Regions from separate parts of the Homo sapiens genome. Here all the other regions are linked to region 3. Evidence: fine-mapped expression QTL. A gene starts in region 3. Each other region holds a variant in brackets. All regions are shown on one strand. Distances are from middle to middle. Region 1 overlaps ARV1 (ARV1 fatty acid homeostasis modulator). Region 2 has its middle 25 kb from the start of FAM89A. Region 3 holds the start of FAM89A (family with sequence similarity 89 member A).

Evidence for each region. PIP is the estimated chance that this variant, and not a neighbour inherited with it, causes the effect.
Region 1: its variant is the best candidate, but not a certain one, in a credible set for the expression of FAM89A in whole blood (TOPMed, PIP 0.71).
Region 2: its variant is the best candidate, but not a certain one, in a credible set for the expression of FAM89A in skeletal muscle (GTEx, PIP 0.57).

The regions. Positions count from the first base shown.
Region 1 is chr1:230,985,307-230,993,488 of GRCh38, reverse strand. It overlaps ARV1 (ARV1 fatty acid homeostasis modulator), which reads right to left. Exons shown (of 6, transcript NM_022786.3): 2 at 5,050-5,169; 3 at 3,226-3,379. Among named protein-coding and RNA genes, the nearest start is that of ARV1, 10 kb to the right of the region's middle. The variant T/C (reference allele first, on the strand shown) is at 4,376.
Region 2 is chr1:231,060,686-231,068,867 of GRCh38, reverse strand. No RefSeq gene overlaps it. Among named protein-coding and RNA genes, the nearest start is that of FAM89A, 25 kb to the right of the region's middle. RefSeq lists a cis regulatory region at 2,803-3,273 and a silencer at 4,971-5,265. The variant C/G (reference allele first, on the strand shown) is at 3,317.
Region 3 is chr1:231,035,979-231,044,160 of GRCh38, reverse strand. It overlaps FAM89A (family with sequence similarity 89 member A), which reads left to right and starts at 3,907. Exons shown (of 2, transcript NM_198552.3): 1 at 3,907-4,240. The coding sequence starts at 3,950. RefSeq lists silencers at 3,746-3,855, 4,116-4,165, 4,806-4,885 and an enhancer at 4,548-5,229.

The sequences.
Region 1 (8,182 bases), 51 kb after region 3:
AAGAATTCCAACCCATTTAAAAACAAGCCTGGTTTTTAATAGTATATACAAAATATGGACATATAACAGTTTATCTTTAGAAATTTTAAGAAGGGCCAGGAACAGTGGCTGATGCCTGCAGTCTCAGCACTTTGGGAGGCCCATATGGGAGGACTGTTTGAGCCCAGGAGTTCAAGACCAACCTGGACAACAGAGTAAGATACTGCCTTTACATAAATTTTTTTTTTTAAATTAGCCAGGCACAGTAGCATGTACCTGTAGTTCCAGCTACTCAGGAGACGGAGGCAGGGGGATCCCTTGAGCCCAGGAGCTCCAGGCTGCAGTGAGCTATGACTGTGCCACTGCACCCTAGCCTCGGTGACAGAGCAAGACCTTCACTCTTAAAAAAATAAAAATTAAAAAAAATTTTTAAGAGGCTTTGCTTTAAGGTTTAAAATCATATTAGGTTCTAGTTCTTGGGCTAGATGATGTGCTCAAGGATGTTTTCAGTAGTATTATGTTTCATAAGATAAAAAGGTTAACATATTCTTTTGTATATTTCAAATATTTTAAATTGTTGCAAAGTCCAAATTGTATACAAAATTATCGATAGACTGGACATCATGGCGGTTAAGCTGTCATAAGCCTTAGTAATTACATAATAATGGAGGCGGAGATTTTTCTATGTATTTTCCATGGATATATCTCTAGTACCTAAAGTACCTAAAGTAGTAACTGGCACCTAATAAGTATTTAAAAATATTTCTTAAGGGAATGAATAATAATGAATAGTGAATGAATAATCACCGAGTGTAACTGATGGTGACTTGCTCAAGTTAAGAGTGCGTGGATGAATGTATGCAATCATTCATTCAATCAGCTGAGCAAATATTTATTAAGCACCTGGGCCAGGCACCTAAGTGCTTGAGCTACAACCGTGACTAACACAAAGAGCCCTGACCTCATTCAGTTGACATGTTAGTGGGGAAAGGCACTAACAAAAGATAATAACTTCTGTGATATGTTAAATAGTAAGTACCATAAGAAAAACAAAGTAGAGCCGGAACAGGAGATCAGGAGTGTCAGAGGTACACTTCATTTAGAAAGTGTCATTTTAGCCAACTCTTGAGGGGTATGCAGGAGTCAGACATCTGGGCATCAGGGGGACAGGCATTCCGGGCACAGGAAGAGCCACTTCAAAGGCCTTAAGGTGGAAGCTCATCCAGTGTTTCTGAAGCAAGTTAACTAGATGGGGAGGGTCAGAGTAGACATGGGAGATGACAGCTGTGGATAAAATGAGAGACGCAGTGGGAGGGGCAGATTCCAGTACAAGGCCCACTGTAAAGACTTCAGCTTGCACTCTGAGTGAAACGGGGAGCTACTGTGTTCTAGCACAACAGTGACATGATCTGATTTGGTTGAAAAGGACTACTCTGTGTTGCGTGCAAATACACAGTTGGAGAACTGGGCTAGCAAACAAGGAGGCTACTGTAGTCATGCAGGTGAAGGATGAGAGTGGCCTGCAACAGTGTGGCAGCCGTGGAGGGAATGGAGGGTAGCAGTAGTATAATAGTAGAAGTGTGGCTGGGCGCAGTGGCTCATGCCTGTAATCCCAGCACTTTGGGAGGCAGAGGCGGACGGATCACGAGGTCAGAAGTTCGAGACCAGCCTGACCAACATGGTGAAGCCGTCTCTACTAAAAATACAAAAATTAGCTAAGCATGGTGGCACGTGCCTGTAATCCCAGCTACTCGGGAGGCTAAGGCAGGAGAACTGCTTGAACCCAGGAGGCAGAGGTTGCAGTGAGTCAAGACCGCGCCACTGCACTCCAGCCTGGGCGACAGAGTGAGACTCCGTCTCAAAAAAAAAAAAAAAAAAGTAGAAGTACTTTGAAGGTGGAGCCAATGGGATTTCCTGATGACCTGACTATGGGGTATCAAAGAAAGAGGCATCAGGGATGACTGCAAGGTTTTCTGGTGAATGCAACTAAAAGAATGGAGTTACAACTGAGAAGGAGAAGGCTGTGGTAGAGGCAGAGAGATGAGGAGCTCAATTATGGGTATGGTGATTTATTAGATATCCAAGTGGTGATGTTGAGAAGGCAGAGGGATGCAGAGTCTGGAGGTCTGGAGAAAGGTCTAGATGGACATTTGAGAGTTCTCAGCAGACAGGTTACATGACCAAGAGAGCGAGAGCAGACAGAGAAAAAAAGAGGACAAAAGAAGACACACAGCCCAGAAATGTGATATTGGAGTGGACTGGAGACTTAGTATTACTAAAGTAAGATTTCATTATAATCAAAGAGTTGAGAAGCAGAGAAGCATGGAACTAGCAATAAAATAGTCACAGAAATTAGCTCAACACAATTCTGACACTAGGAAAACAATAACTTATGAAGTGAAATTCTGAAAAGCACTTCCTGAACTTAAGGAATTTTGAGGAGTAGCCAAATTCCCTGCATGCACTCAGATAAGTAACAAGTAACAAAAAATACCAAACCCTATTAAATACACTGCATTAGTATAATGCAATTAGTACAATACATTGGGTAATGTCTGGCAATTATCTCTATTAATAAAGATAGGACTTAGCTAACTTTCAGATTGGATAATCAAAACTTAAACATTAAGAATTTTATTGGCCAGGCACAGTGGCTCACACCTGTAATCCCAGCACTTTGGGAGGCTGAGGTGGGAGGACTGCTTGAGTTCAGGAGTTCAAGACCAGCCTGGGCAACACGGAAAGACCCCCCATCTCAACAAAAAAATACAAAAATTAGCTGGAGGTGGTGCATGGTGTGGTGGTGCATACCTGTGGTTCCAGCTACCTGGGGGGGCCGAGGCAGGAGGATTGCTTGAGCCCAGGAGTTCAGGGCTGCAGTGAGCTGTGACTGTGCCACTGCACTCCAGCCTAGGCAACAGAGTGAGACCCTGTCTTAAAAAATATATAATAATAAAAATAAAAGAATTTTATCAACAATATTGTGCTTCGAAATATTTTATGAAACTTTCTAATCCGATAAGCATAACTACTTCCATACCATATACGTGGTAACAAATTTTTAAAAAGCAGGTGATTCAAACACACTCACCTCGTAGGTTAGTAGTGGTAGAGCTGAAAATTTCATCTTAAGTCCCATATTAACTAGCTCTTCTTACCAACAATTAAGACTACATGTCTTAGTTTTAACCAGATTAGTTAAGTAAGAATAGTTAACTAAGAATGGAAAGCATGGCATCTCCTTACCTAAAGCAGCAATCGCAAACATTCTATAGAAATCCCATTCCTTAGCATATCTGATCAAGTCATCAGGGGCAGTATTCTGGTTGGAATCTTGAAGCTGCCACCACCTCAGGTATGCTTCACAAAGCAAACAAAATATGCAGAGTTTTCCATGGATCTGATAGTCAAAGACATTGCCATTCAATTAGGTAAGGAAACCCAGTTGCACTAGTATCAACAGGTACAGAGTATTTGTGGCATCCCACCTAGTCACTTTTCAAATTCAGGACTGCCCAATTAAGTGGCTAATTGTAGTCATTTTGTAATCAGTGAGTTTTAATCAGCAATGTCCATCAGAAGCACATGGGGAGATTTTTTTCAAAATTTAAATGTCTGAGCCCAGGTCCTGATTGAGAATCTTCATAGTACAACATAGACATCATACTTTGAAACAGTTCTGGGGGGATTCTAATGTGCACCCCTAGTTAAGAATCACTGCTTTAAATAATAGTTCACCTTTCATTATACATTTTTGATTTCTGTCCTTTATACAGAATCAAGCAAAAAACTTATGTGATTCATGTATATGTGGGAACAGCAATAAGAGAATAGACTTAATCTGAAGATTCCATGATATTGAATAAGAAACTATTAGTCTGAACATCAGTTTTTTAAAAATATCTCCAGCTGGATGAGTATGACTCAATATGTTAAAAGAGAACAATTAAAACCTAATTCTTAAAAGTCTGAAATTTTGGCTAAAATAAAAAATACTAGGCAACAAAAATTGGCTTTTTTCTATGTATTCCTCCTTCAGGTTGAACTTTCTCCATCAATATAAAGTGAGGAAGAGCTGGGCACAGTAGCTCATGCCTGTAATCCCAATACTTTGGGAGGCTGAGGTGGGAGGATCACTTGAGGTCAGGAATTCCAGACTAGCCTGGTCAACATGGCGAACCTCATCTCTACTAGAAATACAAAAATTAGCTGGGCTTGGTGATGCGTGCCTGTAATCCCAGCTACTTGGGAGGCTGAGGCAGTAGAACACTTGAACCCAGGAGGTAGAGGCTGCAGTGAGCCGAGATCACGCCACTGCACTTCAGCCTGGGTGACAGAGCAAGACTCCGTCTCAAAAATAAATAAATAAATAAAATAACAGGACCGCCAGTTAAAT[T/C]TGAGTTTCACACACACCATGAATCCATTTTTATTGTATAAGTATGTTCCATGCAATATTTGGGACATTCTTATACTAAAAAATTAATTCATGGTATATATGAAATTCAAATTTAATTGACTGTCCTGTATGTTATCTGTCAACTCTACCCAAACTATTAAAGAGCTCACAATTCAATAAACTAAAAGTTTATTTTGAAAAATTCAACTTTATAAATCAGGACTTTGATTAAACTGAATGTTATTTACCTTATACATTCCTTTAATAGCAAAGTATAAAATGCAATAAATTATGTTTTAAAAAAACATTTTTCTTTTAATGTTTGCTTAACTCATTTAGGTATAATTCTCTCCCTACCTGGATATGTCTAATTGTATTCTGTTAAAAACCAGTGATGATTGTTTCAATTTACTAGCAGGTAATTCAGATCATGGCTTGTCAGTTTCCTGCCAGTGACCATATTCTTAAACACTCACTAAGCATTGTGCACCTTTCAAAATCAACATCTATTATTTCTAGAAACTTCCAGATATGTTGCAATAAAAGACCCACTCTCACATTAGAATTTCTTTTCCTCTTTTATAATATTCTTTACTTCTGTTTAAAATTCTTATTATTCTTTTAAAATGTAACAGCATCAAATAAAATTAAAAAATGAAATTATCACAACTTACATTTATTTGAGTATTGAAAAGAATATGTCTGTAGGCCTGAGCTTTGCACAATATAGCATTAATCAAGATGATAACAGGATCATACTCGATATATTTGTCTACAGGTTTCTGGCAGGATTTCTGAAATAATACAAGATAATATTAGAACAAGCAAATGTATACTTTCTGAAATCCTCAAGGATTTCAAAACAGCAGAGTCTATTTTGGACACAGATAGCAATATGGCCATATTAGCAATTATTTATATAAACTTCCATTCAGATACAAAATGTTCATCTATATAAGAAAGGGTTTCAGAAAGGACTAAATATAATCTTCTAGGCTAGGAATATTAATATTTTAACGTCATATTCAAGAAGCTAAAAATATATCTAATTTAAAGACTGAGTTTAGGCAGGAAAGTATTCCAGAAGATTTTACTTTCAATCTACAGAGACTCTATGTCCAATTCCACTTTCAATTTGTAGCAATTATTACAAAATAAATATATTTATAATGCACTTTCATTGATAAATTGTTGCCTCTTGGCTAGATGCCCCTGACTTTATGGTTCTTGGCACATGATTTGGAGAAAAGTACTCAGCAGTTACCTTGTCCCCAGAACTACTGAGAGCTGCAAGTAGGTAAAGAATGGGGCATGATCCGAATGATCCTGAGGTGGCCGGTAACAGGGGAAGCCTGGGTTTTTCTCCAGTAACATCAAGGATATGGAAAGAAAATGGTCTTTCTCTGCTAGAGTAGAGACAGACTCTACTGTCTGTACAGTCTGGAGAGTGCTGGGCTGTGCAAGGAACTAGGCTGTGCAGCCTAGCTCTAGGTTCCAGAATCAAGGCTCCCTTGGCTCTTAGCAGTTCACATTAAATGGCTTTATTCCCCCCTGAAGGGTCACCAATTTTGAGTTCAGATTCTCTAGACACATGTGATTACAATGTTACCAAATTCCAACATCACTAGAACATAAAAAACGCAGGTATACACAAACAAGCTCATTAGAAATGTGACCTCTAAAGCAGTACTATTCACAAAAATGCATCAATGCTACCATTCACTTTATAAAACTACAGCAGTCCTCCCGTAGCCACAGTTTTGCTTTCTGCAGTTTGTAACCCGAGGTCAACAGCATTCTGAAAATATGAAATGGAAAAATCCAGAAATAAGCATAAGTTTTAAATTGCATGCTGTCCTGCTCCACTGTCCGGGATGTGAATCATCCCTTTGTCTAGCGTGTCCACGTTGCAGATGCTCCCCGCCTGTTAGTCATCTAGTCGCTGTCCAGGTTAACAGGATTGAGGATTGCAGTACTGCAGTGCTTGTGGTTCAAGTCACCCTTCTTTGACTTAATAATAGCCCCAAAGCATGAGAGTAGTGATGCTGGCAATTTTACAGCCAAAGAGAAGCTGTAAAATCCTTTAAGTGAAAAGGTGAAAGTTCTCAACTAATAAGGAAAAAACCAATCTTATGCTGAGGTTAAGATCTACAGTAAGAATGAATCTTCTACCTGTGCAACTGTAAAGAAAAGAAATTGTGCTAGTTTTGCTGTGGCATTTCAAACTGCAAAAATTAAGGCCACAGTATGTGAGAAGTGCTAAGATGGAAAAGGCAGGGCCAGGTGCCATGGTTCACATCTGTGATACCAGCACTTTGGGAGTCCGAGGTGAGAGGATCGCTTGAAGCCAGAAGTTCGAGCCCATCCTGGGCAACAAAGCAAGACCCTGTCTCGGTCTCTCTCTCTCAAAAAAAAAAAAAAAAAAAAAAAAAAAAAAAAAAAAAATAGGAAAAGTATTACATTTGTGGGTGGAAGGCACGAACAGAAACGTGTTCCGATGGATGGTAATTGGGTTCCATACTATCTGTGGTTTCAGGCACTCACTGTGGGTCCTGGAACATATACCCCAAAGAGAACGGGGACTACTGGAATGGCTACAATTCAAACGCATAACATTTGGAAACTCTGAGAAGATAAAATAGAAGAGTTGCGAGTGTAAAAACCTTCTAGGCTGGCCTTTTAATTACATTAAAGTGCTGGAAGAAAAATGAAGGGCACTGAAGAATACCGACCCTGCAATTCAAATGTAATAAAACATTGGATGTGTTCCCAATTTAAATAGCTTCTCCACTTCATTTGTGTCATTACAAGAATAGGTATGTTTTCCAGTTACCGAGTGATCCAATGAAGGGAGACGTGCTGTTACCTCAAACTTAAATGTGCTTAATCAGGGCCAGGCATGGTGGCTCATGCCTGTAATCCCAGCACTTTTGGGAGTCCGAGGCAGGTGGATCACGAGGTCAGGAAATCGAGACCATCCTGGCTAACATGGTGAAACCCCATCTCTACTAAAAAAAAAATACAAAAAGATTAGGAGGGCGTGGTGGCAGGTGCCTGTAGTCCCAGCAACTACAGGATGAGGCAGGAGAATGGGGCGTGAACCCAGGAGGCGGAGCTTACAGTGAGCTGAGTTCACGCCACTGCACTCCAGCCTGGGCAACACAGCAAGATTCCGTCTCAAAAAAAAAAAAATTCTGCTTAATCAAACTGACGCATAAGGAGTTAATATTTTTGCAGTTCTTTACCTGAGCAGGGAGTAAGCCAGAATCTAAACAGAAGCCCCAGAATCAGAAATTCCATGTCCATGACAAACAGCTGTTTGATAGGTCTCCCTTGGCTACTCACATGGAACACATCTCCTTCCTTTCTACATGCAAGACTGGGACACCAGAGAGGCTGCTTCATGTTAAAATGGAAACCCTAAAAAGTCAGGGGTCCTCTCTCTGTCCTTTAAATATTCTCTAAAACCCGTTTTTGGACAGCATCACAAGTCTAAGGCTGGGGATCTGGACAATACTTGGAAGGAGGTAGGCAGAAACCAGCACCAGGAGACACAGCAGCTGTTATTCCTTTTGCATTCATTTGTTTGACAAATGTCTTTGGAGTGGCTATTACATGTATAACAATCGTTCTCTTTTCTTGGCCATTTTATGGACCAGGAACTTCCAAGGTGCTAGATATTCACCTTCAGCCACAGTTTCTATCCTCAAGGATCTAACAGTTTAGAAGCAGAAGACAAACATGCCTCTATGATATGGTCTCATGACCACAGTCATCAGACTATGTAACATCCAACGGCTACAATGG
Region 2 (8,182 bases), 25 kb before region 3:
GGGTAGTTTGTGTGAAAATGAAATTGAATTGTAGAACACCCAACTAGTGTCCAGAAAAATCAGAAAATTGGTTGTTGGTTTTGGAAAACACCCCAGCCCTACACACTTCCAATAAATCCTCTTTGCTTATTTGCCTGAGTTGGTTTCTATAGCTTTCAGCCAAAGAACCTTAACTAATAAGCTTTTATTGAAATAAAATCCTACCCAGAAACCCAATAAATGCAGAAAGTAGAAGAAATTGTGTCTGCTCTGTTGAAGCAGACGGAGGGCGTCAGTGCAGAGCTCTGCTATGCCACATCCTCACTTCCTCTGCCTGGGTGCCCTGGAGGGGCTCCTGAGAGCATCGGGGGCTTCTGTGAACACAGTGTAAAAAGGACTGCAGGCCAGGCGCAGTGGCTCACAGTTGTAATCACAGCACTTTGGGAGGCCAAGGTGGGCGGATCATGAGGTCAGGAGATTGAGACCATCCTGGCTAACACGGTGAAACCCCGTCTCTACTAAAAATACAAAAAAAAAAAAAAAAAAAAAAAATAGCCGAGCATGGTGGCACACGCCTGTAATCCCAGCTACTTGGGAGGCTGAGGCAGGAGAATCGCATGAACCCAGGCAGTGGAGGTTGCAGTGAGCTGAGATTGCGCCACTGCACTCCAGCCTAGGTGACAGAGTGAGACTCCATCTCAAAACAAACAAACAAGCAACAACAACAACACAAAAAATGACTGCAGTAGGAAACGACACCTCCATCATGGGGATTTGGGGCTCCCAACTAATCAGTGTGCTACCTCCTGTCTAGACCCTAATCCACAGAGAGCACACAGAAGGATACAAATGAGGGCTATAACATCAGGGTTTGCAAAGCAGAGGTCTTTCTGGGGCCTTCAAATTTTGTCCTGCCCCTACCAGCCCACCCCAGTGATGAAAGACCGCAACAGTCAGCTTGCAAGCCCTGAACCTCCTCTGGTTTAGTTCAACAGTAAGTCAGATGAAAGTGTCAACTAAAAATAAAATTCTAAGCCTTGGCCCCGAGCAGTGGCTCACACCTGTAATCCTAGCACTTTGGGAGGTGGAGATGTGCGGATCACCTGAGCTCAGGAGTTTGAGACCAGCCTGGACAACATGGAAAAACCCTGTCTCTACAAAAATTACAAAAATTAGCTGGGCATGGTAGCATGCACCTATAGTTCCAGCTACTCAGGGGGCTGAGGCAGGAGAATCTCTTGAACCCAGAAGATAGAGTTTGCAGTGAGCTGCGATCATGCCACTGCACCCCAGTCTGAGTGACAGAACAAGACCCTGTCTCAAAAAAAAAAAAAAAAAAAATTCTAAGCCCCCCACCTAACTGAATGGACCTTTGCTTGGCCATGGGAAGCCCAGAGTAACCTTGAAAACTGAGTTCTCAGCTGTGATGGGATAGCAGATCAGACACACATTGCTATACCCTCTCCCTCAATAACTGCAATGAAGCTTTTTTCCCTGAGGGCTGAACAGAAACCAGCCCTTTCAAAAGACTCTACCACTGAGATCAACCAGCTGCTGGACACTGCTTCTCCTCTTTTGCCTGATAAGAGATCACCTACCATGGATTGGCTCTGGCCAGTTTTCGGAGAATGCACAGTACAGGTTTTCATGCCCTCTGCTTCACCTTTTGATGTCAGAGGACTGAAAGCTGCCCCTTCGGATCATGCTAATGTTGCCTTTTTATGCATGGGACCCATAAAGGGGCATGGAGCTCAACTGTGTAGTGTACACTGCTCTTTTTATGAATATTCACGTCTCCTCCTTTAGCTTATTAAATATGTATGTTAGGCCACCCTGCCCAGCTTAGATTCCTGTTCCCTTTGCCCTTCCCTTGAAGTGTTTGTTTCTGGCTTCTGACTGGAGGCTACGCTTCCCAGCCTGTCAGAATGGCCACCTTGCAGTCTGCAACCCTTTATGAGAAACGAAGCTCTCCTTTCCAAACATAGGAACCTAGTTATTCTTCGGTTGACATGAGACACATGCAAAGACTATGTTCTCTCTCTTGGTGTAACCTCTGTGATTAGGATGCTGCTGCCATCAAGAGTCCCAGCTTCTGTGCCAGATGGAGGAATCATATTTGACCTTAGGCCCCTCCAAATTTACCTGAGCAAGTACCTACTAGACATTCTGGTATTCTCCCTTGAAAGCCCTCCTGCTGCTGCTCTCTAGCCCTAGGGGTGTATGTTTTGAGTGGACAAACAGTTGCTTGTGTCAGCTGTATGTGTCAGGTGGACTTGCAAAGCTCTGGTATCTATAGTGATAGGGAAGGTGTAGGGGTCTCCCTGGGCCTTGTTCCCCGAGAGTGGCTGTGGCCTTTGATCCACAGTCAGGCTCTCCAGTCTTCACCAGCATTCTCAGTACTCACAGCACCTACTTAGGTTCAGATGCATTGATGTGTGTGGAGGGTGGGGTTGTCATCAGCAAACTGAGTTCTTTCCCAATTTCCCATCAGTTGCAAAGAAAGGACATCTAATTGGAAAAGGCAATTGGGTTTTATTTATCGGCCAGAGAAAGGAGAAGGGAAGCTCTCATTCCAAAGGCATCCTTTCCCTGAGCAACAGGAGGCAGGGTTTTTAAGGACTGGGTGTGGAGTGGGAGAGGTATGTTAACATGTGCAGGGTGAGACTCCAGACACATGGGCATGCTTCCTAAACATGCTTCTTCATACATTGCATGTACACCAAATAGTGGTGATCTTCTCTTAGGGGAGGGGGTTTTAGCATTATAACGCTATGTTAATCAACTAAAGACAAGAGGGGTTGCCTGTTGTAATTTGCACCGGTTTCTCCTGGATCTTATCTTCCTCTGGTGTTTGGTTAAGGGTCAAGAAGTGCTGGCAGCATCCTAGGCCATCTGGTTTCTTTAAGCAATTGTGTCTATAGATAAAGGCACTAAAGAAAAACAGTAGGGAAACGGAACTTTCCCAGTTATTTCATCAGAGCTACCCTGGTAACAGGATGGTGGGTGTGAAGAGTTACGTTTACCCCTATACGATAGTGTGGCTTTCACTTTGGGATGAGATGTCTGCAGTCTCACTGTCAGCCAGTGGTTGGAGGAGAGTTCAAACCAAGATGGGTATGATTGTAAGGAGTTGCTTTTCAAGCTGGTCCCTCCACGTCCACGCCCATCCCAGCACCTCCCGGAAAAAACAGTTCCTCTAGAAGAACTGATAACAACCAACTGCCCCTCAGACCCCAGCTGTTTTCTTTGTTCTTAGGCACAACAGTTGACCCACACCCTTTCCTCTTGGGTCCGCTCACCATAGTTGTAGGATTTTCTTCTGTTTCACCTTTGCACG[C/G]CTATTCTTCAGGGAGCTAGGGGCGGGCAATCCCTGGGGCTTTTTCTTTTCTTTTTTTTTTTTTTTTAGACAGAGTCTTGCTCTGTCACCCAGGCTGGAGTGCAGTAGCGCAATCTCAGCTCACTGCAACCTCCGCCTCCCGGGTTTGAGTGATTCTTCTGCCTCGGCCTCCCAAGTAGCTGGGACTACAGGTGCCCACCACTATGCCTGGCTAATTTTTGTATTTTTAGTAGAGACGGGGTTTCACCATGTTGGCCAGGATGGTCTCAATCTCCTGACCTTGTGATCTGCCTGCCTCAGCTTCCCAAAGTGCTGGGATTACAGGCGTGAGCCACCGCGCCTGGCCCCTGGGGGCTTTTTCTCCACAACTCGCCTTTGCTGGGTGATAGGACAGATTATCAGAGGAAGAGAAATTCCCCAATAATCCTTGAGAGTGGTTCAGGGGTGACTGAAAAAGGCTGACATGACCTGGGCCCCAAATAGGAGAACAATTTGGCCTTAGAAATCAGTTAAGGGTGTTAGCACCGATTAGAACAGAACACTGCTCCATCACATTAGCTGGTAAGAGGTCACGTAGAGAGGATGGTCAGAGGGGTGCTCGATAAATATTCTTGGCAGCCACCTCTCCACCTCATGCTACTTTACTATCTGTGGATGAATGATTTTTGTGACTTTGGGTGGGCCAAGGATTCCTCCACGTCACAGCCCAACTCTACTTTAAGGTACTGCAGCACTGGATAGAATTTATGGGCAAGATTGAGGTTAACAGACAATGTAGCAAGATGCTGAGCAGGAGAGTGGATCTTATATCTCTGTGTAGGGATGTTAAAGATAGCCTCTGCTCCCAAAGAAAAGGAGGGAAGGAAGGGAGGAAGGGAAAGAAGGAAGGAGGGAAGGAGAAGGGAGGAAGAAAGGAAAGGAGGGAGGGAGGGAAGGAGGGACAGATGGAGAGGAAAAAGAAGAAAAAAAAAGAAGGTTGGGCACGGTGCTCACACCTGTAATTGCAGCACTTTGGGAGGCCAAGGCAGGTGGCTCACCTGAGGTCAGGAGTTCGAGATCACCATGGCCAACATGGAGAAACCCTGTCTCTACTATAAATACAAAAATCAGCTGGGTGTGGTGGCACGCACCTGTAGTCCCAGCTACTCAGGAGGCTGAGGCAGGAGAATCGCTTGAATCCGAGAGGCGGAGGTTGCAGTGAGCCGAGATTGCACTACTGCACTCCAGCCTGGGTGACAGAGTGAGACTCTGTCAAAAAGAAAGAAAGAAAGAAAGAAGAAAGCAATCCAAAGTTAGAAACCATATGCAGGAGAAAATATGTTAGAATCCAGGGAACCATAATTGTGTAAGTCTTTTTCAAAATCAACTCACTAGGTTTTTCTGTAGGAAACAAATCAAAAAGAGGAGAGCAAGCAAATTAAATTTCCTTCTGCTTTCTTCCGAAAGAAACTTAATCTCACCATGAGAGAAGATAAAGAGTTCACTTTCAGAAAACACTGATTAGAGAAGCTGCATTTTTTTCACACAAGGGCCTGTGGACCAGCTCAAAGTGAGTATCTTGGACATTTACCCCACATCCTGCCTCCCCTCTCCCCATCTCATCTGCCTTGGATGTCTGACTTTCCCCGTTACCAGCAATTACTTATAAATGGCTGCTAATACTGAGGTGCCAAGTTACCCAGTTTTAACCAAAGAAAATTTGGGCAGAAGGCAAGGCCTACTGCAAACACATTTGCTTTTATTTTTGGTCATTGTACAGATGGAGTTTCAGATTACTGTTTCCTCCCTTCCCTTGAAAGCAGCTTTGTCTTTTTCCTGGACTGAAGAATTGCATTGATTGTAATCACCAAGGATTTAAGGCAACCATTTGTAAGGCGGCATCCACTTTTATGGCCCACATCATGAAAACATTGCAGGCTAGAATTCTCTACCCATATCCAGCCATTTGTTGCTTTATAGTCATATAGAGACATGAAATATTGCTTATTTGATGTATTGGTTTGCTCGGGCTGCCATAACAAAGTAGCACTGACGGGGTAGCTTTAACAACAGAAATTTATTGTCTCACCGTTCTGGAGCCTGGCAAGTCCCAGATCAATGTGTCGGCAGACATGATTCCTTTTGAGGGTTCTCTCTTTGACTTGCTGATGGCTGTCTTCTCCCTGCATCCGTCATTTCTCTGTAACTGTCCAAATTTCCTTTTTTTTTTTTTTTTTGAGATAGAGTCTCACTCTATCACCCAGGCTGGAGTGCAGTGGCACGATCTCGGCTCACTGCAACCTCCTGCCTCAACCTGCCGAGTAGCAGGGATTATAGTTGCCTGCCACCACACCAGGCTAATTTTTGTATTTTTAGTAGAGACGGTGTTTCACAATGTTGGTCAGGCTGGTCTCAAACTCCTGACCTTGTGATTCACCCGCCTCGGCCTCCTGGAGTGCTGGGATTATAGGCGTGAGCCACCGTGCCCGGCCAGGTTCAAATTTCCTCCTCTTAAAGGACATCAGTCATATTGGATTAGACCCCACCCTAGTGATCTCATTTTATCTTAATTACCTCTTTAAAGACCCTAACTCCAAATAAGGTCACGTGCTAAAGCACAAGGGATTAGAATTTTAACATATGAGGTTTTGGGGGATATTGCTCAGTCTATAACATTTGGGAAAAATTTTTACTATTCTTTTGACTTTAGCCCTTTCAAAGAACATCCAAGAGTGCTGGGAAAAACCCTTGTTTGACCGCTTCTGCATATGCCTGTTGAGGATTCTTTGGTCTGTTCAGTGGGAAAATGCTATCTTAAGTATTATATATGGAATATTCTGCCTGTGGTAAACCATGGGATGCATTTTCTCATCTGATGCTTATCTAATGATGTCATAGGGCTTCAGAAATGAATGCATGGAAGTGAGGAGTAAAAAATAAAAGATCCCCTAAGCACTTAAGACTTCTGTGCATAGAAATGCATGAATAAGACCATTTAATGGGTTTCTGAGGCTCAGAAGTTGCCGCTTGTGCGTCTCAATCAAGTGTTTGTCTTTGAGCAGCACATTCTTCCATGTCAGGGATGTTTATTTTTTTGCTTTGTCCTTAATGAGACTGTTCTATTTAGGTTTAGAAGACCTTAGACACAAAGGCTGTGAGTTAGAGTCATATAAGGTAGCATTATGATTATTCATTATGGTATATGAATTTCATGTTTTACCTATTTTATGAAGTAAGAAATTCCTAACCTTATTGAAGAAGAGACATCTGATTCAGCCTTGCACATGCTAGTAGAGGATCAATTCCTTAGTCCATGGTCTAGGAAATCAGTAACCCAAAATAGTTCTGCCTCCACGGCTGAGCCAGTGTTCCCTGGCATATCATTATTAGCCTTCTCTTCTCACTCCACCTGGTTTCACCTCCCCGAGCCAAGCTCATGTCTCCCACATGTAATTCTCTAGCTGCTATCTCTCTTCTGAGCTTAGACCCTAGAGATTCCAGAATATAATACTTTTCTACTTAATTTTCTCACAGGTAACTTGAACTCAACATGACCCAAATGGAAACCATTGTCTCACTCCAAAATTTCCTCCTTCTCTGCCTACGTAGTCCCTATTTGATCACATCACCCCACCATGCATCTAGCTGCCCAGTCCAGAAATCTTGCAGTTATTTATTCTCCCTTTCCTCTCCTCCCTCCCATTCAATTTTCCAGTTCCTGTGATTCTACTTCCCTAGGACCTCTTGAATACATGCCAGCCTCTCTTTCCTCATTGCGGCTCTCCTAGACTCTGGCCTCAGCAGTTCTGCACTGGGGTACTGAAAAACTTAACGAGTGCAGGGCAGTATCAGAGTTAGTAGTCCATTTTCTGTTGCCTATAACAGAATTCCTGAAACTGGGTAATTTATAAAGAAAAGAAATATATTTCTTACAGTTTTGGAGGCTGAGCAGTCCCAGGTCAAAGGGTTGCATCTGAGGAGGGTCTTTTTGCTGGTGGGGACTCTCTGCATTGTCTGGAGGTGGTGCAGGGCATCCCATGGTGAGTGGGCTAAGCACACTAGCTCAGGTCTTTCTCTCTCTCTCTCTTTTTTTTTTTTTTGAGACAGGGTCTCACCCTGTCACCCAGGCTGGAATGCAGTGGCACAAACACGGCTCACTGCAGCCTCCACCTCCCAGGCTCAAGCAATTCTCCTGCCTTAGCTTCCTGAGTGTCTGGGACTACAGGCATGCGCCACAAGGCCCAGCTAACTTTTTGTATTTTTATAGAGATGGGGTTTTGTCATGTTGCCAGGCTGGTCTTGAACTCCTGGGCTCAAGTGATCCACCTGATCTTAGCCTCTATAAGTGCTGGAATTACAGGCGTGAGCCACCACACCTAGTCTTATGGGCTACATCTTAAGGCTGAAACAGGAAATATCCTATAACAAATGTACTTTATCTCTAGAAGTTGATCTCTTGGCAGCAGCAAAATCTACCCAGACAGCAGAACTGTGCAGTGCTCCTCAGCGCTTACTGGTTAAATCGCCATAAGAGGGTTAATATATGCAGGAAGAGTAGATACGCAATTGGCGTAGTCCATGATTTTGAGATGCTTTGGAAATGAGAAGGCCTCTTGTCCTCAGCAGAAACCACACTTAGGAATGGTGAGGATGATAGGAGAGAATGGAGTGAGGGAAGGGGACCTGGAGCCGGAGCAGAGACCACCCCTGTTGTCCAAGTATCGGGGGATCCATCCCATAGCCCTCTTTACACATAAATCTCAGGCCCAATGTAAAGCTGCTTGTCACGTGTTTCTTCCCTTGTGTTTGTTTAAGAAGAAAATTTCTTTTAAAACAGGGATGGCAAAGGGGGTGAGTGAGGATGAGACCAAGGCAAACCTTTTTACC
Region 3 (8,182 bases):
TCTGCAACAAATGAAAAATGGCAAGATAAACTTCTCTATAGTTAGCGGCATTTAAAGTCATCAGCTTGAAAAGGCAAGCTCAGTTGGACTTCTGGTGTCTTTTTCAGGTTCTTTCTAGTCTATTAACAACCTAAGTTATTAAACTTGAGAATGATAAAAAAAAACAAAAATAAATAAAACGCACAAAAAGACTCTTTAGAGTTCCCAAAAGCAAACAACAAGTGGGCAGAGATTAGAGGTGGGGAGGAACCTAGTGGCTGGGTTAATGGAAGGTCAGGATGGAGGCACATGAGAATAATCTCTAAGTAAATGCCTGGATACTGGTGACTCTGAGGCTTGTGCTCCAAGGCCCAGGTCCCTAACCTTGATTGACAAAGTCTAAGAAAAGATGTGGGTTAATGAATAGAGCACTGGATTAGAAGTTTGTGTTTTCTGATTTCCAAGAGCCTGTGAACAACAAAACAAAACAGAAAAGACTAATTCAGCTGCATGGGTGATGATGAAGACTCACTCTGATTTGAACTCAGAATACAGATGTTTTGCTATGGTCTGAATGTATGTGCCCCCTGCCAGCCCCAAATTCATATGTTGAAACCTAACCCCCATGTGGTGGTATTGAAGTGAGATCTTTGGGAGGTGTCTAGGTCATGAAGGTGAAGCCCTTGTAAATGGAATCAGTGCCCTTGTAAAAGAGGCTTGAGGGCGCTCCCTGGCCCCTTCTGCAATGTGAGGACACCCAGAAGGTGAAATCTATGAGGAATGAGCTCTCAGCACACACGTCAGCTGGTGCCTTGATCTTGGACTTCCAGCCTCCAAAACTGTGAGCAATACATTTCTGTTCTTTACACATTATCCAGTCTCAGGTATTTTGTTATAGCAGCCTAAATGGACTAAGGTAATGTTTCAGTGGCTTAATGCAAAAAAACACACTGTCAGAAGTTATTTACTACTTCTCTCTCATTATAAGCATGAACTTTAAAAGGTACTTTATATTGGCATTTGAATAAACAGACACTAACATTCCCCAAGGATGTCAAAATATTTGTTATATAATAGTTTCAGGCTTGTACAAATAATGTCTTCACCAGCACCACAGAAATTCTGTAGAAACTTCTCCTTACCCTGGGATATTATTTGTTGATACTGATTTCAATACTCTTACCTCACTGAGTATAGGCCAGAACGCAGAGCCTGCCTTTAAAATGTTAAGGTTGGCCTGGCGTGGTGGCTCATGCCTGTAATCCCAGCACTTTGGGAGGCTGAGGTGGGTAGATCGTGAGGTCAGGAGTTCAAGACCAGCCTGGCCAAGATGGTGATGGGTATGGTGGCGGGTGCCTGTAATCCCAGCTACTTGGGAGGCTGAGGCGGAGAATTGCTTGAACCCGAGAGGTGGAGGTTGCAGTGAGCCAAGATCGCGCCACTGCACTCCAGCTTGGGCGACAGAGTGAGACTCCATCTCAAAAAAGAAAAAAAAAATTGGTAAGGTTGGCATTGTCTAAGTTGTGCCTCTTTTCTCGAGTCCTGACACCACGGACCTCATGCTGCTGTCTAGCTGACCCTAACCTCCTTTTCCTTCTGTAATCCGTAATTCTCTGAAGTATGTGCTTTAAAATGCTTTCAGTGCCCCGATACTTCAAAGTGATTTCTTTTCTTATTTCACCATCACATAGCTGAATCTCCTATCACCTACCTTGAGTGATTTCTGCTAGGTACTACAGGTGAGACTGCATTGTAACCAGTGAAATTAAAGAAATTCATGCAGGCTGGGCGCGATGGCTCACACCTGTAATCCCAGCACTTTGGGAGGCCGAGGTGGGTGGATCACCTGAGGTCAGGAGTTCGAGACCAGCCTGGCCAACATCGTGAAACCCCATTTCTACTAAAAATACAAAAATTAGTCGGGCGTCGTGGCACATGCCTGTAATTCCAGCTACTTGGGAGGCAGAGACAGGAGAATTGCTTGACCCAGGAGGCAGAGGTTGCAGTGAGCTGAGATCACGCCACTGCACTCTAGCTTGAGTGATAGACTGTCTCATAAAAAAAAAAAAATTCATGCTAAGGTGTGAACCGAATGTCAAAATGCTTCCCACCCCTTCCTCTCCCTTACTCCCACACAGGCAGACTGGTCACTCTCCTGAAGACACCCACCGTTTACATAAGTGAATGAATAAATACCTGACATCCAGAAATGTGACTAGGTAATTAGTAGAAGGTGAGGCACAGTGAAGAGGCGGAAAATTCTGGGCAGTGGGTGGGGTGGGAAGCCTGGGTGCTGTCAATCACACCGCCTGCACTAAAGCTTCTTCATATCAGTCTCACCCACTTGCAACCGTCCAGGGAGAATATTGTGCCAATTTCAAAGACACTGCTTCTGGGGTGGGCTCTAGGAGGTGGTAAAGGGTATAAAACAACCCAAAGTGCAGGGCTCTTTTATGTTGGGTGTCTGAAGTGCTCAGAACACTTTATAATTTTGATCCCCTTGAATGTAGCTAGAAAATTAAATCCCTTTATAATTAAAGCCAATAATGAATGGGCATTAAAGTTATCCAATCTATACACTGCATTAGTTTTTAATCTGCGGTTGGGCTGTAGCGTTTACTTCTTGATCTTTTCTATCTCTAATCTGGTTATAACTGCCTGTCATTTTTACTTTTCCTGGGAGGGGCAGAGTCTCTCTCTCTCTTCTCTTTTCCTCTGAGGTGTGCGTCGTGTTTATTTTTGCCTGAGCTGATGGATAATTTCCGAGATTTAATCCCTTTCTCTGGTTTCCTGACATTTCCACTTAGAGTTACTCTTGTGTTTATGGCCAGAATGAAAGGCATGTTTACTAGTGTTTTGAAGTTTCAAAAGTGGGTCTGGCGTTCTTGCTGACTGCTGCGGGTACTGCTGGACAAGGCCGTGCTGAGAAGGCCAGCGCGCCCGGCGGCAAGGAGCGACCTGCCCGGGTCTGGGGCCCCCAGCCGCCCCCCGCGGCGAGTGGGAGGCAGCAGGAGGCGGGCTGGATTCCGCCCTCGGGGAGGGCCGGGGGTCCTGGGACCAGAGCCAGGCCTCCTGCCCTCGACGTCCTGCCGGTTGTGAGCCAGAGCCTCGGTACCCCCACCCCCTGCAACGGCCTGCTTCGTGGGATCTGAAGCTGGGCCGCCCCCTGGGCAGGGCAGGGATCGGTGAGGCAAGGAGCTGAGGAGCGCTGGCAGGTAAGGGGGAAGTCTGGAGCCGGGTTGGAGGTGAGCGGGCGTTGAGGGGTGGGACAGAGGGAGTGGAGACGGGGCTGGGGGCGAGCCAGTGAACTGGGGGTGGCACAGAGGAGGTGGGAGCAGAGATGGGGGTGATCCGGAAGCCTGGGGTGGGGGGTGAGTGGGTTCGGAGCTGAGGGTGAGCCAGTGAGCTGAGGGTGGCACAGAGGGCGTGGGGGCGGAACTGGGGGTGAGCCGGGAAGCTGGGGGTTGGCACAGAGGAGGTGGGGACAGAGATGCGGGTGAGCCGGGAAGCTGGGGTTCGGGGTGGCGCGGGTGAGAGGGTTCGGAGCTAGGGGTGAGCCGGGAAGCTGGGAGGTGGTTCAGAGGAGGTGGGGACAGAGATGGGGGTGAACCGGGAAGCTGCGGGTCGCGGGGGGCTTAGTAGGTTCGGAGCTAGGGAGTGGCACAGAAGGGTTCGTGACGGGGCTGGAGGTGAGTCGGGGGGTTAGAGGGTAGTCACGCGGAGTTGGAGATGAATTAGGGCGCTGGAGGGGCGCGAGGGAGGAGGAGACCCGGGTGGAGGCGAGCCCGGCTGCTGGACGCGGACGCCACCCGGACCCGGGGCCCGCGCAGGGGCCTCGAGGAGAGGGGGCGGGGCCGGGGGGGCGTGGCGCGGGAGGGGAAGTGGGCGGGGCACCGCCGGGAAGGGGGCGGGCCGGGGGAAAGCCTTGGTTCGCTGCAGCGGGGCAGGCGCGTGGCCGGGCCGCGGCGCGATGAGTGGGGCCCGGGCGGCGCCCGGGGCCGCGGGCAACGGCGCGGTCCGGGGGCTGCGGGTGGACGGGCTGCCCCCGCTGCCAAAGAGCTTGAGCGGGCTGCTGCACTCGGCGTCGGGCGGCGGCGCGTCTGGGGGCTGGCGGCACCTGGAGCGGCTGTACGCGCAGAAGTCGCGCATCCAGGACGAGCTGAGCCGCGGGGGCCCGGGCGGCGGCGGGGCCCGGGCGGCAGCGCTGCCCGCCAAGCCTCCCAACCTGGACGCCGCTCTGGCGCTGCTCCGCAAAGAGATGGTGAGTGGGGCTCCGCGAGCTGGGGCTCTTCCCGGCCGGGCTCGCCGTCCCGGGAAAGTTCGCGGGGACCGCGCTCTGTCCGGAAGTCCCCGCGCCCACCCGCCCTTTCGGGCTCCTCCGCCCCAGGCGCCGGCGCCGTCCTCCCAACGACCCCCATTTTTCTCGCGTGCTCCGTGCCCACGATTGGAACCCCCGCGGGAGAGCCCCGCGCGCAGAGGGCGGCTTTCTTATGCCCGGCGCCCTCAGTCCGGCCCCGCTGGCTCGGAAACCTGGGCGCCCGGAAGCGCTGTGCGGGGTTCGTGCCTGGCCTGGGGGCGGGGGCGGCCTTGTCACCTCTCCCCGAGTGAAACAGACCTTCCCGGTGGGGGAAAGGCTTTCACAGCGGCCCAACGGATTAACGCGATTGCGTTTTCCTACCACGAAGAGGACAACTTTTGTCCGCCGCCAGTGTAGACAGCAGATTGGAACAGCCCGGCCCCCTTTCCGGCGCCCCAGGCCGCGCGTCCGTGATCCGATTACCGCGGGATGGCCCCGGCGCACAGATGGCTGCGAAAGCAGACGCGCACCCCGGGCGAGGGAGGCGGCCGGGTCCCTCAGCCCCGCGAAGCTGATTGCCCAAACCCTCTTGAGAAAGGTGGGAGGTGGCTGTCCTCCCGGTCTGGGTGCTGTCCATGTGAGTTCTTCGCCTTGTGTCTAAGCTCCATACCATGGGCTCAGTGTTTCTCTGTGCTTGGGAAGTACATTAGCTGTTTGTGGACCAGAACACACATGATTTAGGGTGACGCTAAAAGTAGGACAAGGGCAGGGATTTAGGCAACAGCGAGTCTTTCCCCAGCTTTCTCGGCCAGGCGTAGGCCAGGCAAGAAGAAATCAAAAACTTTTCCTCTTTTCTACCATCTTACTGGCCCCCATCACCTCCTCCCAATCCCCTCGTTTTAAAAGCCTCCCTTTCCATTCACCTCGTCCAGGTTGTCTCCTTTCCCTATAGGTAAATTGTTAAGAAATCTAACATTAGGAAAGCTGCCTTTTCCCAAAACTAAATTTGCCAAAAAATAAATTGTTATAGGAATCTTTTAAATATGTATCTAGTGCATTTAAGATATTGTTTAGAAAAATTCAGGGTATGCATACTTTTTTTTCAGGAGCATTATCTGTTCTGAAAACTAAGACTTAATTGAATTCAGAAAGCAGCCTTAACACTTTTAATCAAAGAGATATTGTCTTCCTACTCTGTAGCTGGCATTGAAGTGATTTCCAATTCTCACTGAAAAGATTTTCTAAGCTTCTTACAGAACCACTTAAATTCCAAGCCAACCGTTTTTAATTTATTAAAAAACATTCATTGACATAAGCATCACACAGCTGGTGAACTGCATTTTAATTAGATAAATCTACACGTAGTGTGTTTACAGTCTGAACTTGGACATAGCAGAACCACGGGGGTGAAGTAGGAAGATCATCTTTGATTATTTAAATTCCATACTTGAGCAAGAGATAGAAAAACCTCGGGGCCGCTCCTGTTGTGAAGCTGTGGTTTATAAACATGCTCTGGAGTCTTGCTATGGTGGCTTGGGAGTCAACGTGCCATTCCCAGAAGTATTTTTCCAGGTCCCTCCTGGTGTGACTGAAGCACAACCACATCCGTATAATTACGCCTTGGACCAGAGCTCTCTGTAAGCCTATTTGAAGCACAAGAAAAATAAACAGCCATCTTTGGTCTGCCTGGTATTTAGCTGAGATAAAGATAAGATATGGCTGCAGGTTTTGACAAGTTCCTTTCAAGAAATGTCACAAGGCCTTTAAAGTTGCCCAGAGAATCTTTCGGCTTTTTAATTGATTTACTGACTTGGGGCCATGGGGTCTGAGTGGACAACTCAAGCTGAGACTCCCTCTGGGGAGGCCTTGCAAAACAAGAACTGGGAGTTCATTCCTGAGATATCTGCAAAATAGTTTGTGTTGATCTGTTTAAATTGAAGGCCTGACGTCAAATCTGTGGCAGGGGACATAACTAGATGTCATGGTAGAATGTGATAAATGCCTTAAAGAAATTTTTTTTTTTAAAGCAAGCATAGAAAGAGGGGCAACTTCTAATAGGGACAGGGAGCAGGGTGGTGTGGAAGACCTCAGAAGGCGACAGAATTTCGACAAGGGAAAGAGGCACCAGGAAGGTAGCTGCGGAGCTGGAACTGGGAGTGCGCCAGTTTGAAATGTGAGCAAGAAGGGCCTGGGCAGGTGGACCGAGTGGACTCTGAGAAGCCTGAGTAGCAAGGATGGGCATTCAGCAGGAGAATGGTATTATCCCAGTTGGACTTTGAAGAAATGAATTCTACAGCAGGGTGCAGAAGGGAGAGCTGGACTTTGGAGGCTCAACAGGAAGATGAGAGGTGTTCATGGGAGAGGTGATGGAGTCCCCAGCAGGGTAGGGGGCTTGCTAATGTGAAACAAGACTCATGTGGGAGACACTTTTCTGAAGCCGAAGCTGGAGGAATTACTGAGTCAAGGAAGATGATGAAAAGGGGATCAAAGATAACTTAAGCTTTTTCATGGAAAATGTAGCCAAGCAAAAAATTAAAAATTACAGTGCCAGCACCTAGAAATAATCACTTTTAGTATTTTGGGATATCTTCTGTTAGGTGCAATGTAAGTGCTTTCTATATAGTATCTTATTTAATGGTATAAATTCTCCATGAGATAGATACTCAAAGTCTGTTTTATATTAAAGAATTGGATGCTGAGAGTTGAACTCCCATAAGGTCACAGACCCTACCAGGTCTCTTTGGCTCCAAAGCCCTATTTAACCATTGCAGTCTGCTGTCTGTGCACATGCATGCACTCTCACACACACACACATACATATATACAACACATTGATCACATATATTTTGGTTTGCTTTTTGGGCTGCACATTGCAATTATTTTCCCAGTCAAGATATATTATAATGACTTCAGTGAGTGTGTAGTATACCACTGTATGGCAGTTAGCAAGGTTTTGAAGCTTAATAATCAATCACTGGTAAAGTGGGGTTCATTATGGCACTTGGGGAGTCAGGAGGAGTAGCTGCTTTAGGGAGGAAGGTAATTTGTCATCGCATCAGCTGAAGAGCATGTTAAACATTTCAGAATGTGGAGCTGGAAGCTGGAAGAGAGGTTTTGGTCTGGAGATAGCCAGTAGAAGAGATGGTTGGAGCTGAGGGAGTAATACCATCTCAATGGGAGGAGAGGCCATTCGGATGCCGAGGGTGGAGGCTGGGAGAGCTGGAGCCCAGGGCTGAGAAGGGTCTGTCTCATGACTGCTGATGCCCTCCTCTGCTTGGAGAGTTGTGGTTTCAGCTCCACGTTTCAACACTTCCTGTTCTAGTAACCCCTGTGAAATTCTGCACTACTCGTAAGTCCTCGTCCCCTCCCCAGAAGGGCCCACTTGGAAAGCTTCAAGGGTCACACAGATAGTTATTGCTCTACAGACCAAAAAAGTCCTTTTGAAAAAGTTGATGATGATGATTTTTACATCAGAGAATATCTTTAGATCACGTTTAAGAGATGATTACTGGGTGTATGTTAGATAGCAAGTACTGTGGATGGTTTAAGGGTGAATAGGAAATATCTAGATGTTAAGGGGCTTATCACACCTGGTAGATGTGGGCATCTTTACAGAAAAAGAATTGCTTTAGTTTAGACTAGTTTTCATTTTTCATGACCAAAGACTCTATATTAGTAATAGAAACTTAGTTTGAACTAGCTTTTTCAAAAGGACAATCTTATAGACTGGATGTATACAGAGACAGGCTAGAACTAGGGCTTATGGGGAATCCAGGAAGTCCACTGAGGTATTCTCTTCCCCTCCTCCTCTGTTTTGTTTTTTCCCTCCATTTTGGAACCTGGCCTCTAACAGTGGCCACCCTCAATTTTGGCCTTGCTGCTTAGTTGCAGTTTGCAAATACTGTG